Regions from separate parts of the Homo sapiens genome. Here region 2 is linked to region 1. The links come from fine-mapping of genetic effects on gene expression. Tissue or cell type: tibial nerve. Region 1 holds a variant in brackets; the other region holds the start of a gene. All regions are shown on one strand. Distances are from middle to middle.

Region 1 (5,199 bases):
GGTCTCAGCTTCTCCCTCTGTGAGATGGGCATGTTAGACCAACAGGCTTCTGATACTCCTGCTGGATTCCGCTGTTGCCTGTGCCCCCATAGCCCTCACTCTCCTGAGGCTCAGTCTCTCCATCTGTGGAGTGAAGTGGTTGAACCCGATGGCCCCTGAGGCCCCAGGGCTCCCAGAGAAAGCCAATGGTGTGGGTTTAATCAACTCCTTTCTTTAGTCATAGGGACCCCATCGCAGCAATTTTTACAAAAACTGGAAATGTCCAAGCTTCAGTCAAGTACTCGAAATATGGGCTCTCTTCACGCGGTAGATGGGGCCTCATCAGCCTTTGCACTGCCAGTGACCAGAGGGGTGACCCCAGCGCAGGAGGCCTGGATGAAGGCTGCAGAAGAGTGGAAGTGAGCCACCACTGCACCTGCTGCCTCAGTGCCAGCCTGGCGGGGCTCACGCTCTCCTTTCCAAGTGCAGAGTCCTGGGGTTGCTCACGCAGGTACAATGTGGTACACCCCGATCCAGCTCTACCACACGGCCCTCATTCTTTTGAGTGGCAACACTCTGGTCCCCATTTCTAAAGAGGAAGCTGAGGCTCTCTCAGGCTGGCCACAGGTTCCTGGCACAGCCAGGCCTGGAGTGCAGGGCTCAGCACACCTGACCTGTGGTTGTATTGTATTGTTTACTTTCACTGTGTCAACACATTGTATCACTTGTTCATTTTTTCCTGAGTAGATGTTTAGAGTATTTCACTGCAATGTCAGTCTTGTAAACTTTACACTCACAGAACTCTCCAGAAGGTGTCAAAATGTTGCCTTTAGAGCTGTTTGAAGAATCCCAACTTTAAAATCTATACACTGGTATTGATTTCTCTTTCCGTCATGGGAAATAAATAATTTTAAAAGGGATTTTTACAAATGTCCCGTGACAAAATCTAAGTCACAAAAATTCAGCAGCAAGGTGACTGTGTCCGTATTTTATGGAATTGGTGTGGTTTCCTGGAGCTGCACAGGAAGGTCCTGTGAGACGTGCACGTGATGGAAGGTGCGTCCCGAGCTGCAGAAACTCCGGTGGCCTCATTCTCCACTCAGTCGCACCGAGACTCACTGGCAGCAGGCGGGGAGCACACTAGTGGGCGAAGGGTACACAGACCCCTAAAACATTAGAGCCCCGTGTGCTGCCATGGCAGAAACACCGCAAGAGGTATGGGCTGTTGGGTTTTTCAGCTTAAGGTAAGAAATATTAATTTGCTAAGTTGGAATGGAAAATGAAAACGTGGTGCCAGGTGTCTAGATAAAGTAAACACAGGCTGTTACAGTGCTGGGGCCAGGTGCTCCACAATCCCTGCTAAGCTGGGCCATGTGGCCTCGGGAAGCCTCTGCTCATCGGTCAAACGTGGGCTACTGTGGGACCTTCTGCACCACGGGGCCTGGGCGAGCCTCCACTTGGGACACAGCGAGGCCTTGGTGCATCCTTGCAAGCCACCAGGAGCACTGGAGTCATATCCTGCGCCACAGACACAGCCCCATGCTGGCCGCTTCCCTCCCGTAACCAAAACGCTCCGTGCAGTCAAACAGCAACTTGCATTGCAAAAAACCCCACACCCTTCTTCGGTATATTTCCTGACTAAGCAGGCAAACAGTTCCATTTTAGGTGTGGTCCATCCCCACCGTGGGAGTGCTGTTACGGGGGTGGGGATGGTTTGAGGTCTCCCCCCAGGAATGTGAGCAGACACGTGGGTGAGAGACAGCAGTCTCTGTGTGTACCCACAACAGGACAAGAATCAGAGTTGCAGAACTAAACTGTTTCTGCCCGTTGGCAAGAGTGTCTAAAAATGTTTTACCAGAAGAAAACCAATATTCAAAATGTGCTTTTACATCAAATGGACAAGGGAAGTTGAAGTTTACAGTTTATAAACAGCAGGGCCCTTTTTTGACAAATGCAGTGAAGTTGTTTCACTAAAGAAATACTTAGCCAGGCGTGGTGGTATGCACCTGTAATCCCAGCTACTCGGGAGATTGAGGCAGGAGAATGGCTTGAACCCAGGAGGCAGAGGTTGTGGTAAGCCGAGATTGCGCCATCGTACCCCAGCCTAGGCAACAAGAGCGAAACTGTCTAAAAAAAAAAAAAAAAAAAAAAAAAACTTAGGCTCTGAGCTGAAAGATTAAACCAGAAAGCATTGCCCACCTGCAGGGGAATGCAGAATCCAGCTGCCCCAGGTGGATCCACTGCAGGACCTTCAGAATGAGAGATTCTAGGGCCAGAGAGAAAGCCTCATGCCTGCCTCGGTAACAACAGAACTTCCTCCAGCTGTCAGGGGCTGGCCTGGGAGGCTGCAGGAACCCACCCCCAGCTCCTGCGCACAGTGCACAGAGGCCGTCATGAAGTTTGCTGAAACTCGTGGAAGCTGCTGTTATCGGGGGAGACTAGTGTCCTCTCACTGAAAGATTCTGGAAATCGTCAGGTTCAGGACGCACCGTCCACCTGGAGCGTGAGTGGCAGGGATGTTCCAGGCAGTGCTTCCCAGGAGAACCTTCTAGAAGCCTTTCCAGCCCCTGACTAGGGTTGATGGACAAAGAGGAGAAAGTGGGGGATGAGCCTTCAACAAACTGACTCTGCTGGGGCTTCCGCTGACTTCAGTTTTCCCTCTCCAGAACCGGGGATGGCTGGCTGCAGCGTGGCCTCACTGCCTACACACCATTCAGCCCCTGTCTGCCTTTTTGTTTACACTGAGAACACAATAGGAGCTATGGTCCTTCCAATACATCATTTATAAGTGTGTCCTACCTCTGAATGCGCAGGCAGAACTGGCTGTGGGTGAATAAGCTCTGTGAATCTTGCCAAGACACTGCTTTGTTCAGCATTATTCTTCACAATAGATACCACACTTTGGAAGTAATTTTAAAAAGGGAATCAAAATAGTGGTACTTTTAGCCTTTGTTTCTTTTATACCACACTGCATTCTCTGTCTCTCATTCAGCCGCTCCCATTATTCTGACAAATTAAATAAACCACTCCATTGCAGAAAAGCGTGGGCAGGCAGGACTTCACTCCACTGCAGCCCCGGGAAGTCGAAATAAACATTGAGGTGGGTTCTGCTATAGCCATTTCGTCTAACTTAAGGAGGGGAAAAAATGGAGGGGGGAGACTTCGGAACTTGAGTGGGTCAGTAGCCCCCGAGAGCCGGCCTCTGCAGCAGGTCGCGACCACGGCGTGGAGGGCAGCGGTTTCCAGGAGCGCTAGGAAGTCCTTCCTGCGGTGTGGCCC[T/C]GGGAGCCCGGACGGTAAGTCACAGGAGGTTGGGGCACCGCAGAGGTGGGCAGCAGACTGCGCTGACGCCTGGGGCTCTGTTCCTGCAAGCAGCTTGGCTCTTCTCTCCTTTTTAAAAAGGCCTTCTTACAGGTGTTGAACCGCTGCCTAAAGAGGGAGTGACTCCAGGAGGAGGAGGACTTCTCTCTCCCTCTCTCTCTCTGTCTCTGACTCTCTGTCTCTTTTAAGCTCGACTTTGAGAAGTTTTTGACTTGTGCAATCACAATCTATTTATGAAATTCAGGCAAGGAGAGGACTGAAGAGGAGGAAGAAGAGACGGACAGGATTTTAGAGTGGGGTATTGCCTTCGGTTTTCTTAAGGTCCAGGATGTGTTACAAAACTGATGGGTGACACCCTTCTAACTTTTGGCCTTAAAGCATTTTTCTTTGTACAGGAGAAAAAACAAAAAGTGTGTGTTTGCAAAGGAATCTCTGTTAGATTAATGACTGATTTGAACTAGAATATACATGGAAGTCATTTTAGTTACAACTGCCTCTGTCCTCGTTTGTCGGGTGTGAAACGTGGGGTAGCCGTTTCTCTGAGAGTAGCTCCGTCTGGATTTGGAGAAATCCTCCTGACTGTTGTGAAAATCGTCTCCCATCGGCTGTGCCGGGACCCTCCCCTCCTTCCGTTCCTTTTCCCGCACCCTCTCTTAGCAGAACAGGTGGAGCGGGTGGAAAGGACAGCGGCGAGAGCGCGTGTGGTCAGGGGTCTCGGAGGCAGCCTGATTTCCTTATGAAAACAGAGCTCTGGTAAATGCCAGTTATGGGGAGGGCTTTGAAGGCTGCAGCCACCAGCTAAGATGGCCTCATCTAAAATGCAGGCGTCTGCGGCATGGAGGGGGCTCTGTGTTCCAACAGAGGCGTCCCCTGGCTTCGGAGTCAGAGGGCACTACAGGCACAGGGAAATATTGAGCCACAGTAGTTTGAACAGAACCATCAGGGTTCATCTTTTATTACCAAAGAAAGACTTGAAAAAGCCCAGGTGAAATTTTCTTCCATTGTCTAGGAAAATTCTCTGTAATTTGCCCCCTGGGAAATCCAAGTGCCTTGTGGCCGGGGCCCCCGCCCCACTCCCCTCTGTCCATCTCTCTCCTCCTCTCTCTGCGTAAATGTCTCCGGGGTCCCTGGAGAACCCAGGGGGCTGAGCAGGGGACGCTGAAGGTCAGGGTTGCCCACTGTGGCCTGACTTTTAAGCTAAAGAGGTTTTTCTTTCTCTTGTTGCCCTGTCAGGTCTAATTTGGCGGCATTATGCTGAGAGGGCGGGCCTGCTCCTGACAGGAGGGGGTTAAATGAGATTGCAAGCTTTGGAGGCTGTCAGCAGCCACTGCTGCCCGGGGATGTTAAATTGCGATTTAATGGTCAGCTTTATCTGGATGGTATCAGTGCAAATCTGCTGTTTTCAGCAACTTAATTGGCACAGTGTTTGCAGGAGTTTTTCGGGGAGGTAGGAGAGCTGACCAGATTTTAATGCTGAATTATTTAGAGATCAAACTGGCAGAATGTCAGTGGGAATCTGTCGCGTGTTTGGTTTTCTGAAGCACAGAAAGCTTATGAATGGGCAAGATGCTGAATTCCGCTGTGATGCCCGAAACTTTCTAAAAATATTCACAGGGTCTGATGCAGCTCCGAGTTTATTTATAGAGGGAATAAACAAAGAGTAACAGTTGCTATCACAACATATGTGCAGTGTCTGATTTGTGAGGGGGCAGCAAGAACGTAGAGGCAGCCGCTCTCAACAGAGCCAGTGTGGGCTGTCTTTTCAAAATTTTAACAGATGGGCGCCGCCTGTGGAGCTGCGTGTTCCCGGGGTGACTCACAGGTGACCCCACACTACACAGGACTGACGGTGCCTGCTTGTGTGTGCGTAAGGCATACACGGGTGCACGCCTGTTTGTGCGC
Region 2 (5,106 bases), 130 kb after region 1:
GGTGTCAGAGAAGTCCTCCCTTCCCTGTACCTCCTCCTTCCCAAGCCCCTGAAATCCAGAAGTGCCTGTTTCCAGGCGCCAGCCCTGCTGAGTGGATGTGGGGATGGAGGTCACTGGAGGCCCAGGGCTGGTTTGTTGTTTTTGTTTCCTGTTAGGAGTACTGTGAAGGCTTTGCAGGGCTAGTTTTGGGAAATCTTAGGTTTGGCTTCATCTGACTCCTCTACTGGAGCGAGGCGTGCAGCCAAGCCTGCTTAGACCTCCCCAGGCCACGGGCCCGCGGCAGCCCAGCTCAGCACCTGCAGGCGGGGGGACCGCGCGCTTGGCTCGAAGACCCCGCCCTGGGCAGGGGACAGAAAATATGAAATCAGATGGGGAGTTATGAATAACTGTCCTCCCCTCCCCTCTGCCGTGTTTCCTGAATCCGTACGCTATGCAGGAGGGGGGCGGGGGCGGGGGCGCGGGGAGGAGGAGGGGGCCGTTTGCCATTAATCTGGGAACAAGCGGCTAACCTCGGTGACTGGTATTTTCGCTTTTCTTTTCTCACTTTTCTCAGTGTGGGGAAAGCAGTCAAGCCCGCGCGGAGCGATTGTGAGGGGCTCTGCTGGAATTTGGCAGCGCGGAGGCTTGGAGAGAAGCCCCATGCTGGCTCCCATTCAGCCGGCCCGTTTTCCTCGAGCTTTGGAAGTTTCACTCAGCCGTGCACTCAATGGCTTCACAAAGCTGATTACAAGCTTCAGCGCATTCCTGAAGGAGCCAAAAGCGACGCAGGTGCAAACGAGCCGAGGGAGCCCCTTATCCCGGTGACAGAATGGGACAAGCTGGGAAAGGCTTAGACCACACAAGTCCAAGGCTCACCAGGCCGCAGAAAGCCTGCCTTGGGAACCGGGGGTCATTATCCGCCCTATTCAGCGGGGCCCGGGGACCCTGGGGGCCGAGCGAGGCCAGCCCGGGCGGGAGCACCGCCGCCAGCGCGCGCCGGCGACAGGGGGGAACCCCGCTGGGCGCTGCGGCCAGGCCGGGGCTCAGGGCGCTGGGCTGTGCGTTTGCACAAATCTGTGTTCCGGCGGGCCGGTGTCAACCCTAGTGGGGACACGGGAGAAAGAGCACGCCAGTAGGCCACGCGGCGCGTGGGCAGTGCGCAACTTCTGTCGGCGTCCAGGCTGTACGGCCACGTTTCAGCCGGTGCCCCCAGGCCATGGACACCCAGCTCCAGGGTCGCTCTGCGCCCTTTCTCCCCAGCCCACCTTTCCCATTGGTCCCCTCTCCTGTCCGAGTGGCAGCGCGGCCCCGCAGGGAGCGACCCCGGGAGGGACAGTGACCGCACGCGTGGAGTGGGGACGGCGGGGCACAGGACGGTAGTCTAAGAGTGTTCGCATGGCCGAGGACGCTTTCGCTGCGAGTTTGGGGTCGAGGGGCAGTTCCCTCCCGGAGTCATTAACTTCGTCTCCTCGTGCTCAGGGACCAGCAACTTGGTGCTGCGGGCGCCAGAAAGAAAAGGGTAGCGCCTCGCGGAGCGCGCGGGGGAAGAGGGACTGCGGCAGCGGGACGCGAGGGCGGGAGGGGCGCAGCAGCGGGGAGCCGGAGCGCAGCGGAGGGGAGCGCTGGGGGGCGGGGAGCGCTCGGGCAGCCACCCTGTCCCCGTCTGGAGCCCCGCGCTGCGTCTAGGAGGGCGCAACACGCAGTCCCCGCGGGGGCCAGAGCTCGGAGCCCCCTAGTGCATGCCCCCTCTCCTCGCGCCCTGCCGAGGCCTCGGCCCTGCCTGCCGTGCCCTGGGCCTGGTTGTGCCCGGGGGTCCCCGCGGGCAGGGCGCGGGGCAGGCAGGGCGCGCGCGCCGACGCTCTTTTGTCTGATAACTAATTTGAGTTAATGCGATCTTTATGTAAAGCTAACAGCGGATAATTGTCTATTTTCTCGCCAACAGTCTCCATCACAATCACTTATCTGGAAACCTGCGGTTGGATTAATCGTTATATTCCCGAGATGAGCGTCGCTGCAATCCGCAGCGAACGCGGGTAGGGACCTGGAGACGCCTCCCGGGCGCTGGCGGGGCCGGTGTGGGCCAGCTCCGCTACCGCCTGAGACGCGGTGTGCCCAGGTGTTGGTGCCCGCGGGAGAGGGCTGTGGGGCGCCTTCCCCAGGATTTGCTTGACTTGCTTTTCGCTCGAGTGGGTGGTGCGCGGGTGCGGGAGGCGGAGGGAGGAGGAGGGGTGAGGGGAGGAGGGCCTGTGGGGCTGCGGACCCGGAGCAGCCTGGGTGGAGCGCGGCCTCGGGAGGCCCTGGGTGCATCGCGGCGGGGCCTGGGGGGGCCCAGGCGCCGGAGGAGCCGTCGGTGCCGGAATGCAGCGTGTTTCACTTGGGAGAAACGTTGCCCTCGGTCCCTTGCCTCCCTCCTGTTGTCTCGGTTTTTCTGGCTTCGTCCTTCGTCCCACCCACCCGTTCCCACCTCAGGTCCCTCCCCCAGGATCCCCTCCTTAAGGATCCAGGTCTCTGAAAATTATTGGCAACAGTTACACGCCCCACGATTGAAATCCACAAGAGAAGAGTCCCAGTTCTGCAGGCCGCTCCAGGGCTAGGGGTAGAGATGGTGGCAGGTGGTGCGTCAACTCTCTAGGGAAGAGGAACTTGCATTACAAAGACTTGTCTTTCTGAGCTGAAGTCAAAACGGGGGCGTCAAGCGCGCTCCGTTTGGCGGCGGTGGAGGGGCCGCGCGCCCGCGCTGTCCCAGCCGGAGCTGCCCTGGCTGGTGATTGGAGGTTTAACGTCCGGAATTCAGGCGCTTCTGCAGCTCAGATTTGCCGGCCAAGGGGCCTCAGTTGCAACTTTTCAAAATGGTGTTTCTGGAAAATAACAAATTCAGACTCAACTGGTGACAGCTTTTGGCTATAGAGAATGAAACTGCTTCCCTTTGGCGGTGGAACTCTTAAACTTCGAAGAGTGAAAGAATACAATGAAATAAAATGCCATAAGATCACTGGATTTTTCAGAAAAAGGAAGACCCCAAATTACTCCCAAAATGAGGCTTTGTAAATTCTTGTTAAAAATCTTTAAATCTCGAATTTCCCCCTACAACATCTGATGAGTGCTTTAAGAGCAAACGAGCAAATCCCACCTCGAGAATCAACAAACCCAAGCTCTGGCCAAGGCTCTCCCCGCGTTTTCTTCTCGTGACCTGGGGAATGTCCCGCCCCATCGCTCACCTGGCTCTTGTCATCTCGCTCATCTTGAAGTGACCCGTGGACAATGCTGCTCCCTGCCGCAGCTCCGCCGGTCACTCAGGCAGAACGGGGTATGCAAATGGCCTGGAGAGGCCGAGGCCGAACACTGCGCCCATTGTCCCGGGCGCTCAAAGCGCCGAGCAGCTGCGCAGACTTTCTGGGCTCGGACCCTCGGCCGCCACGCTAATGTCATCATTGCAAAACATCAGATTTTGAGAACTATGCAGTCTGAATTCATTAGCAGCCTTCTCGGCGAAGGTTCTTTTCCCCGTGACAAGTTTCAAAGTCCAGACCCCCTCCAACGTTGGTAGGGGTAGGAAGAGGAGGAGGGGCCCAGGGAGGGGGGTCTTTCGCAAGTGGGGCCTCGGGGGATCCCTGCTCTCCTTCTGGTGCATTCCGCAACTTTAAAAGCCTTCCTTGGGGTTCTGAGCGCGGATGTCTGACTTGAATGACCTGAGATTTGGACATATTCCCGTTTTCTCCCAAGAGTTGCTTTAATGTTGCGAGTTTAAATTCACTGAAAGAGGCCCAGATACCAAGTCGAGTGAATTTCATAGACATCATCTTCTGTTTTAATGATCGCGGCAGTGATCGTTTCTGAAGTCATACCCTTTAGGGTGAACTCACAACAATGCATGTCAGAGAGGCTGCGCGCCCTAAAGCAAAACAGTTAAAACATCAGGCCACGCTCCTCAAACTGCAGGATTGCAAGCAGCTCACAAACTTCCAGTCCCCACCCCAAGGTGAGGAGAGTCTCAGTGACTTGAGGACCTGCTTGCACTCCCGCTTTCCACGCCCGGTCCCCTACCCGCACCTGCCCAAGTGGTCTCGTTCCTCTAGAATCTGAATGGTGGGGAGGGGTGCTCCTGATGCCCCGGGTGCAGGGCGGGCACCAGCGAGCGAGACCCAAGGGCGCTAGAACCCAGGAGCGCAAACCACCGTTAGGGCCTGAGGGACGCAGAGGCGGGTGGAGTAGTGTTTCTCAGATTCGTGGGAGGCCGCAGGCGCCAGCAGAGGCAATTTTCCTCCCCTGAGCAATGCTAGTTCTCCTCAGGCCCAGGATCTCCACTAACGTGTCCTTCCACCTCCTCACAGGACTCCAAGCTGCTGTCCCCTCTCTGCCGCATCTGAGGCTGGGAAAACTTCCTAGGAGAAGGCAAGAGAAAGCCACCAGACCAGAGCCGAGGACTAAACTTTAAGGTCGAAGACGGCAGAGGGGCAGGTTCTCCCCTGCACACCCCAAGGCCTCTCCTGCACCCGCGAGGCCTTCCTTGAGCGCCCAGGCCCCCGAAATGCCTGCCCTCCTTCTGACAAAAGGAGGGGGTAGGATGTGAAGGGGTAGTGCAACCAACAATGTTTTTGTAAACACAACAACAGGGAAATACATGGAGGAAATCTATTTATTGGGTGTGTCATTTTTGGTGGGGGGCGGGATTGAAAGTGGCGCCATCTAGACCCAGGAAAAAGCTACGGGGTGGGCGGGGTAAGCGGGGGACTCTTGGTAAATGTGGATAATTTTGAACTGGGACACCATTTTGTTTCCTTCCTAGAGCATTGTATGATGTGGCCTGAAGGCTCTGGAAAGTCACAGATCACACCCAGCAGGAGGTTCTTCATGTGTGCCAGCCCCTGGCTGGGCCTGGGCAGCCTTGCCCCCATCCTCTGGCCCCAGCTCCTGCCACCCCACCTGCAGACAAGGCTGCCAAAGGCTAGGGACAGGGCTCCAAGCTAGAGGCCGGCTTTTTGGAGATGTGGCTGTGGGAGGGGAATCCCAGGAAGTTGCATAGAGAGGGAGTTTTTGCCAGCCTGGGTCACTGATGGCCAGTCCGGGTCACTGATGTCTCCCCAGGGGCAAGGGGACAGTGCCTGGCTAATTGTGGGTTTCAAAATC

Direction of the effects. Positions count from the first base shown, and alleles are read on the strand shown. Sizes are in standard deviations (SD) of each study's normalised expression.
For the expression in tibial nerve of the gene that starts at base 3,228 in region 2, allele T in region 1 goes with a lower level than allele C (moderate effect, 0.59 SD a copy in GTEx).

Evidence for each region. PIP is the estimated chance that this variant, and not a neighbour inherited with it, causes the effect.
Region 2: LINC00404 starts here. The variant in region 1 is fine-mapped to the expression of LINC00404 in tibial nerve (GTEx, PIP above 0.99).

Annotation. Positions count from the first base shown.
Region 1 is chr13:111,969,315-111,974,513 of GRCh38, forward strand. SOX1-OT (SOX1 overlapping transcript) reads left to right here and starts at 2,996. Exons shown (of 4, transcript NR_120392.1): 1 at 2,996-3,079. The variant T/C (reference allele first, on the strand shown) is at 3,259.
Region 2 is chr13:112,103,402-112,108,507 of GRCh38, forward strand. LINC00404 (long intergenic non-protein coding RNA 404) reads right to left here and starts at 3,228. Exons shown (of 2, transcript NR_047014.1): 1 at 3,198-3,228; 2 at 2,694-2,837. SOX1-OT (SOX1 overlapping transcript) reads left to right here. Exons shown (of 4, transcript NR_120392.1): 4 at 4,311-4,614. RefSeq lists enhancers at 277-896, 2,758-3,377, 3,998-4,616.